Regions from separate parts of the Homo sapiens genome. Here regions 1 and 2 are each linked to region 3. The links come from fine-mapping of genetic effects on gene expression. A gene starts in region 3. Each other region holds a variant in brackets. All regions are shown on one strand. Distances are from middle to middle. Region 1 holds the start of SNX10-AS1 (SNX10 antisense RNA 1). Region 2 overlaps LINC02981 (long intergenic non-protein coding RNA 2981). Region 3 holds the start of KIAA0087 (KIAA0087 lncRNA).

Region 1 (2,760 bases), 140 kb after region 3:
ATTATTTTTCCCAAAACACTTTAGGTTTAAGAATGACCTTTCCTAGGTCTTTAGCTTATGATTAACCAAATGAAACCATCACTAGATGGACTCCCTAATTCAGGTGTTGAATTACAAAAATGAATTTTCAGGGGGAAAAAAATGCTAACTCAATTATGTTAGTTAAAATATCAGTAAAATTAGCAATGCCACAGTGTCATGAAGCAGAAGGTCAAAGACCCACACACCCTTTACTGGGCGCCATGGTGGGACTTAACTGGGGCAGTTCCGGTTCTGCCATTAGGACCATGAGCACTCCAATCTCAGTGAAATTGTATAAGACACTGCCATTATCCCCGGATCATTGCCACGATAGACCCAAACAACTCCAGTCTATCGTGTCAATGTGTATTTGGGGAGTCTTTAACACACGGATCATTGGCGAGCTGCACCATAAAAGCCCTGTAGGAGCCGTGGCCGTGTGTGGAATCAATGCACACTCGGGGACTTCCCCACGCCCGGATCATTTGCAGCGCATCGTGTCAATGCATACTCCGGGAGCCCCTACTCCGAAGCCTGTGAGTGCTGAGGAACAGTGTACACCAAAAATACTTATGGAATAGTTGTTACAGTGCGTACACAGTATTCACTTTTCTAAATGGCATGTCAGCAAGTTTAGTGTGCCACAAATAACTCCTAAAAGGCACAAAACACTCCTAGAGGCCCACCTTCACACATGAATGGTTGGTCCATGGAATTGTGGCATGGCTGTGGGGGAGTGTAAGTTTTTCTTTACAGTGAACAAAGGGAAAAGAAAGAGACATCTGCTATTCAGTGTTGTCAGGGTTTTCAGCATAATCCCAAACACCTCCTAATTATTTTCCTGGGCATTTGATCCCTAAGATACAAGGACCTTCCCTCCATCCCTGCCCTGTTCCAAAGTACCTGTAGAGCAAGCTGAGAGGGCAGAGTTAGAGGATGGGTGGGGTTGGGTCTTAAGTGCGATCCCACAGAGATATAATGTGAACCACATGTGTAAATTTAAATGTTCTTTGTGGCCACATTTTTAAAAAAAGATTTAATTCATGATACTTTATTTCACCCCATATACCCAAAATATTATCATTTCAATATGCAATCAATGTTTTTAAATGATGAATGAGCCAGTTCACATTCTTTTTTCCATACAGTCTTCTTTACAATGGGGTGTGTATTTCCCACTTGGAGAACATCCTGGTCTGGCCTGGCCACACTGCAAGCCCTCGGCAGCCTCTTGTGGTCAGTGGCTGCCCCAGTGAGCAGCACAGCTACAGAGGTTCAGGAAAACCAACCCCAGGAGCGTGGATGTTCACTGCCTTCCTTCAACCACTCCAGGCAGGTGCGTCCACCTTTCCTCCTCATTGCCTCACCAGGGCTGCAACTGCCGAACAGCCTTTTCTCGGCAGCCTGACAGAATAGCTGTGTGTTGGGTTTCTGCAATCATAAAAAATGACCACAAATATGCATTCGGAAAGAGGAACGAAAACTCCTCTAGGCCCAAACGGTAATGGCAGTACTAGGTCATCTTTCTTGGAGACGGAGGTGAAGGGAGGGCAAGGGGCCCCTGGGGAAGGAAAGAGGAGGCGGGCGTGGCGTCGAG[C/T]GCGAGGGCGGCGGCCTAGCTGCACCCGCGAACTTCCCCACACCTGCGACCAGCTCACCTCGCGGCGTGAGGGATCCCTGGCAGTCGGACGCGGCAGGGTGGCTGGTTTCTGGGGCTGAGTCTGGCCCGACACAAAAGAGGAGGGAAAGGAGAAGGAGACGGAAACAAAGGCGCGGGGGAGGACGAGGAGGCGCGCGCGGTCGCGGGGCAAAGCGGCGATGCGGTGCGGGCGCGCGCAGCCTGGGGCTCCCGGGACCAGCGGGCGGGAGCAGGCGGAGCGGGCAGGGCGATTTGAATATCAGGCTCTGCCACACTCGGGGCGCCGCTGACAACTTCATTACCTCCGCATATAAAAATGACTGCCGGGGAATGCAAATAGCTCGCCTGTCTCAGCCGCCTGCCCTCGTTCCGCCGCCGGCTGCAGGCGGAGGCCCCGGGAGCCGCGGCGGCCGGAGGCGCAGACGCGCCCTGTCCAACATAATGAACTGCCCGGCCGCGGCTCCGCCCACCCCCCAGCCGCCGAGCCGGGCCGGGAGGGGGAGCCGGCCCGGTGCTGGAGGAGGAAGGGGTGGGCGGCCGGGCGCGGCTCAGAGGCCGCGCGTTGCTAGTCAGTGTCGGCGCAGGCCCTGCCTCTTGACTCTGTCATCCAATTACTGCCATGAAAATACCAGGAAACTAGAGTGCTCAGTGGGTTCCACTCGTGACCGCGAACTCTGACGGAAAAGCGGGACCCCCGGCCTCCGTCCCGTGCGCCCTGGTGGTTAAATTGGACGCCAGCATCCCGGCGCCCCGCTCTCGTCTCGCCTGCAAGCGGGCGGCGGGTGTGCTGCGCCCTGCTCCCCAGGCCTGCGGCCACCGGGACAAGGCTGCGTCGCTGTGCAGGACCCGCCTCCCGAACCCTGGGCCTTGCTGAGCTCCCCGTGTGGCCACCGAGGCAAGCCGCGTGCGGGAGGGAACGCAGGCTTCACGGCGCCTCTCTTCTTGCCCTGGCTTGCTCCCTGGCAAGAAGTCACCTCCCGCCTTCTGATAGCTCCCCCTGTCACATTTGGGCCCCTTGTGAACTTCTCGAGGAGAGGAGCTAGGTCACTTTTATTAATAGCAACAACGACAGTAGTAAACATATGCTGAGGACTATTCTACGC
Region 2 (2,760 bases), 52 kb after region 3:
TTTGGATATAATGCAAGAGAATTATATCATTTAATTCAAAGCACATACAACAGGTGATCGACTAACCACTCCTACTCATAAACCAGTCCTCATGCCTCTCCACAGGCTCATTTTTAGATTTCCCCCAAAACACAGAAATTTGCCCAAGAATGGATTAAAGCCTTCAGGGTCAGACAGATAATGGTATTTTCAGATTGTGATGACACTCTAGAAAAAAAAAATATGGCTCAACCATTTCATTAGCCTATACCTTATTGTAACCACATCTATAGCTACCTTCTTCCCCCAACCCACCCAGGAGAGCAGGAGGGGGAACTGGTCATGGAGACTGGAGATTGAATTTACATCAGTGGTGTGGTTGTCACGCATTGTTCTCTCTTACATTCTGAAAGTCTTTCCTCCCTGGCTGTTCATTATGAAATCCTCCACCCAAGGGACTTTGGGAGCATTGTGGCATGTCAGATTTTCCAGGAAGCAGACTCTGAAATAAGATTGTGTCCAGGGGGCCTATTGGAGAGTTGTCCAATAGGAACCACACCTGTGAGTGAATGCGGGCAGCAGCCTTGGGCTGCAGGAGAGGCTGAACTGGGCTGCAGTCACAGCAGAGGCCTCAGCTGGCCACACAGGGGTTGGGATGGCCCCTAGAACTGGCCCAACTGAGGCAAGGGGGTCCAGCCTTTGTATCCCCCACAGTGGCCAGTCATTGAATGCAAGATACCCCCAGGAGAGGTCATATCCTTGAGCAAGGCAGCCCTCTTTGGCCAAAGGCCAAGAGCTTCCACTGTAAGCCACCAGCAGGCAGTGCTCCTGGTAGCCGAGGGAATGATGCTTTGGTCCTGAAGGAGAATCTGGGTAGAGCCCCACAGCATCCACTGCAAGAGTAAACCCACTAGCGCCTGGCTCCCGGGACCCTCCAAGTAGTGGCAACATCAATAAACCATAGGGCCTGATTTCTAGGCAGCACCTCACAGTGATAAATGATGGATCAGTAGGCCTGCTGGCTGCAAGAGAAGCTGAGAGGCAGGTAGTGTTGGTGTGTATGTGGGGGTAGGGCAAGGGAGCAGAACACCCCTCGTGGACCTTGATATTGTGCTCTACCTTTCCGCATTCATCCCTCCTCCCCTGAAAAAGTCCTGGGCAGGAAACAAATGTGGTCCTGATGCCTATTGGGCCATCAATCTTGAGATACAGCATTCAATTTCAAAGTTATTTGAC[C/G]AAAGCCAAGTTACAAATCTTGAAGGAAGCTGGCTTTGCAGAGAGACAAGGGCATTTGAAAGCATGAACTGGGGTGAACCTTATAAGCAAAAATCTCAGAAGTCCTTGGTTGCCAACAGTTAGCCAAGCACTTGCTGGACTTACTTTGTTTCCTGGGCCTATGGAAATTTTACCTACAGGTAGAATTGCCCATGCAAAAGCCCGAGAAGTAACCCTGGGGGAGAAGAGTGGCTCACACTGCAGATTTCCTCCCTGGTCTTCTTTCTTCCCCTAAAGCCAGACCATGCAAGAGAGTGATAAAGCCAAGTTCACGGCTTGTCTCCATTCATTTTGTTCTTTTTGGGAAACGGGGAGGAGCCTGGAGCATTTCTCCTTCCACATTTCCTTAAATGGGTCTGACTCAGGTAGAGAGGAGACCACCATCATTGTGTAGTAAGACAGGGGTGGGAGTGACGGGGCTTCCATAGTTACCATTTGCTGAATGCTTAGTGTGCTCGGCACCATGCTGGGTCTGCATGTATCTTCTTATTTAATCCTTACCAGCACCCGCAGAGGTAGATCAGATTATTCTCTTTTTCCCTAGATGAATCAAAGATCAAAGAAATCAAGTAATGTGCCACAAACTCACAGGCAACCACCTACTGAAAGGCAAAATTGGGACTGAAACCCAGGTCTGCCTGGCTCCAGCCCATTTCTGTTGATGGTTAAGAAGCCCCTCCCAGCACTTTAGGAGGCCAAGGCAGGTGATCACCTGAGGTCAGGAGTTTGAGACTAGCCTGGCCAACATGATGACACCCCGTCTCTACCAAAAAATACAAAAATCAGTCAGGTGTGGTGGCGCACACCTATAGTCCCAGCTACTGGGGAGGCTGAGGTGGGAAAATCTCTTGAACCCGGGAGGCAGAGGTTGCAATGAGCCTGGGTAACAGAATGAGAACCTTTCTCCAAAAAAAAAAAAAGAAGCTGCTGTTCTCCCAGGGCCATGGTGCCACACTGCAGTTGTCTTTTCACGTAAATAGGACATTTAATGGCAACTTTTGGTGCACCCGGAATTCTGTTCATCTCCACGCCCAGCTCAGATCCCCTGGGCTGAGTTTGCCTCAAGGGGCTTCTCTGCATCTCCTCAACTTGCCCAGTCACCCACTGCAGTGTCCTCAGCACACCAAGAAACCTGACAGTGTCACTCACTGACTGACAGGCTGATGCACAAGCGGTGCTGAAAGATAAATCAGCCAAGAAGAGAGCCGGCCCGTATCTTCACAAACCGGCAGCATGTCATTCCAAATCAAATGCTTGTATGTACCCTGTTGGTTCGCTGGGCCCAAACCTCCTATACTTGCTCTGAAAATCTGGATCACCATTGGGTTGTGTTATGCCAATCATTTATTTAAAACAACACAAAACAAAACTTTTCTGAACTCAGGGAGAAAATGCCACTGGTAATTAAGCCTGAGATGATAATTTAATTCCTATGACAGACGAGGCTCTTCATCCTGGTGGAGGCATGCTGGCCCATGTAGACCCGGGTGCAAGTGGTCATACCTG
Region 3 (2,760 bases):
AATATTTATCCTACCTATGTGTACTTAAAAGTGATGTTGTTGGATGTGTACAAATGAATTAAAGACATGCTTGGGGGTGTCCTTTTTAGTTGCATTTGCTACTATACCACATTAGCCAGAAAAAACTTTCCTTGTCATTGATGAAAAACACTCTCTCTTCTTACCTGTCTGAGGTTAACTAGGGATTGCCATGCATAGAGAGAACTTAATGGTATGGGAGGTCATTTATTTGTGTGGCTCTTTGGAGGGAATTTCAATTTTGGTGCCTAGATTACAAACCATATTCAAGTCTTCTGAAGAACCATGGAAAAGGAGAACAACTTACAAATGCCACACACCTTTTGGGAGGCAACAAACTCCCTACGAGCAAGAGTATCCAAATAACGTCCCACCTCTCTGCAGGGCCACTAATGCTCCCGACACAGGGCAGACCTCCAAGTAGAGAAGCATCTCTGGAGAAATTAGAGCCTCCCCACAAGGAATATGAGGGCTCCGATCAGTGGCCACAAGGAACCCCTCCCTGCTGCCTCCACAGTGGCCCCACACTCTGTCTTCTCTGCTCCCATCTTACCCCAAGGCTGCAGGACCTTGGGATAGAAATCTTCTCCCCTAAGCAGCCCAGAGAATGCTCCTTAACCCAAGACAGTGGGTTCTCAGTACTACTTCCTCCTTCCTGCCTGGAAAAGTGCAAAAAGTATAGATATGCCCACAGTTCACTGGGCAAATAATGTACTGACCTCCGGGGGATCCTGGCCTTGAATGGACTAGATCTGCCTTCTCTGAAACACAACTGGTCATGGAGGGTACCCTGCGAACAGATGTTCATCACAGAATTATTTAAAAAGATGAAATGTTAGAAACCCAAATATCTAGCATCCAGGGGATTGGTTAAACATATTGTAATAATATCTTCCTGATGTATTCTACAATATTAATATCAATACAGTATCATAAGCATTCAGTGTCACTGTAGAGGTATTTAATTGAATGGGAAATATTCATAGTACATTATCAAATAAAAACGTTTAAAAGATATAGTAATTTCTTATCTTTGCAAAATAGATATGCATATCTATGCATAAACAAAAACATGGGAAGATGACACTAAAATGTTAATAGTGGTGAGTGATAGATGATAGATTTCTCTCTCTCTCTCTCTCTCCACCTCTCTCTTTGAAGCTGTATTTTACAAATTTCCTGAAATTCACCTGTATTACTTTTGATATAAGCAAAAATTATTTTAAAAGTGGTTATTTTTTAAAATATGGCATTAAGTCCAATTTAAAAGGTAGTGAGCAAATGTTGGGTCGGCTTCTGTAGTCTTAATTCTGGTATCCTTTCAGAGAGGGTCAGTACTCCACGTCTCATTCTTTGTTCTTTTGCAAAACTTTATTTGAAGGCTTTCATCAACTGGTCATTCGACATGCACTTAAACAGGAACCCAGGTAATAAATTCTGCCTTGAGTTTGTTCCAGGAAGCAGTGCGGCTTGACACAAAGGATGTGCATGCTTTATGTTGTCAGATGATATAAACTGTGTTGCCCCAGATTCTGCCTTTTGCCTTAGCTCAGAGCCACCTGGCTGTTTTAATCATCTCATCTCAGATGCCTGGCAACATCTAATTCCTCAGCTCCTTTTCAGTAATTTCAGTTCTATTTTCTTACTCTATCATTCTGGTGTTTTCATTGCATTTTCTTATAAAAGAGATCCAGATTTATTTTGGAAATAGATTTGAATGACGAAAACATCCTATAGAAGCAAATCCTAAACAAATATAAATATTTGACCATGATTATGCAAAGAAAGCTCCTGCTTCCTCCTCTGTGTCACAGAGACCCTCGGGAGGAACTCCAGGGAGAATGGAAGCTTGGGAGTCATCCCAACCCTTGCTCAGGTGCGAAATCCCCTGCCCTCTGCCTGGCACTGATAGGGACGGATCAGTTTCTCTGCCTGGAGAGGCAGCCTCCTGTGACCTGGATACATTGGAGCCTGAACACGGGAACAGAAGGTATCCTCCCTCCTTCCTTAGTGGTCTCCGGGTGCCCTTCTGGGGAGGATTGGCTCTTCTGGGCTTCTTCATGCATATGATTCCTAGTCATGGCTTCAGCCCCTTTAGTTCACTGGGTCCTTATTCCGTGTTTTCCTGTGCCCAGCTGTGAGGCTAGAAAACGGAGAGGAGAAGGAAGAAGGGGACAGGGATGGTGTGGTGGTTGGTAGAAGAGAAAGAAAGATACAGACAGACAGACAGACAGAGAAACAAAACAGACCCTCAGACACTGAACATGTTTAATTAAGCCGACTTTATCCAGTTGCAGTTGAAACCAGGGTGGAAATAATTGATGTTCCTTGTATTGTTTTAGGTGAAAATGGTAGAAATAAATGGAACTGTCAAGGTTGTAAACCTTCCCATCTTCATTACAAATAAAGAATTAAGAAATGAACAGTAGTAAACAGATAGGGGTTCCAAGATGTCTTTTTCTTCCCCCAAGGCAATGTCCCCCTGGAACTTAGCACCAAGGCACCCTGTTTTCTGTCCTGACGGTTACTCCATTTTCTCCTCCCTTGAAAAGGGTTGCCCAGAGCACCCCCAACCCACTCCAAGGCCAGACCTCTCCCAGCCTGAACTTCTTCATAGACCTGTTATCATCCCTCACTCACCTTCAAAGCCTCCCACTCACCAGTTCTTCTTCCTAGTCCTGGGAAAATTCCTTCTCCAGAAGCTGCCTGTGCATTCACCAATCTAGCCCCCTTAATGACCCT

What was found. PIP is the estimated chance that this variant, and not a neighbour inherited with it, causes the effect.
Region 1: its variant is fine-mapped to the expression of KIAA0087 in cerebellum (GTEx, PIP 0.97).
Region 2: its variant is fine-mapped to the expression of KIAA0087 in prefrontal cortex (BrainSeq, PIP 0.95).

The regions. Positions count from the first base shown.
Region 1 is chr7:26,397,938-26,400,697 of GRCh38, reverse strand. SNX10-AS1 (SNX10 antisense RNA 1) reads left to right here and starts at 1,280. Exons shown (of 2, transcript NR_136272.1): 1 at 1,280-1,357. It overlaps LINC02981 (long intergenic non-protein coding RNA 2981), which reads right to left and starts at 2,129. Exons shown (of 5, transcript NR_148502.1): 1 at 1,677-2,129. RefSeq lists silencers at 1,593-1,702, 1,793-2,252 and enhancers at 2,723-2,760, 2,037-2,760. The variant C/T (reference allele first, on the strand shown) is at 1,619.
Region 2 is chr7:26,485,998-26,488,757 of GRCh38, reverse strand. The region is part of intron 1 of LINC02981 (long intergenic non-protein coding RNA 2981); the gene reads right to left. Among named protein-coding and RNA genes, the nearest start is that of KIAA0087, 51 kb to the left of the region's middle. RefSeq lists an enhancer at 2,742-2,760. The variant C/G (reference allele first, on the strand shown) is at 1,216.
Region 3 is chr7:26,537,654-26,540,413 of GRCh38, reverse strand. It overlaps KIAA0087 (KIAA0087 lncRNA), which reads left to right and starts at 1,589. Exons shown (of 2, transcript NR_022006.1): 1 at 1,589-2,008. LINC02981 (long intergenic non-protein coding RNA 2981) reads right to left here. Exons shown (of 5, transcript NR_148502.1): 5 at 1-2,161.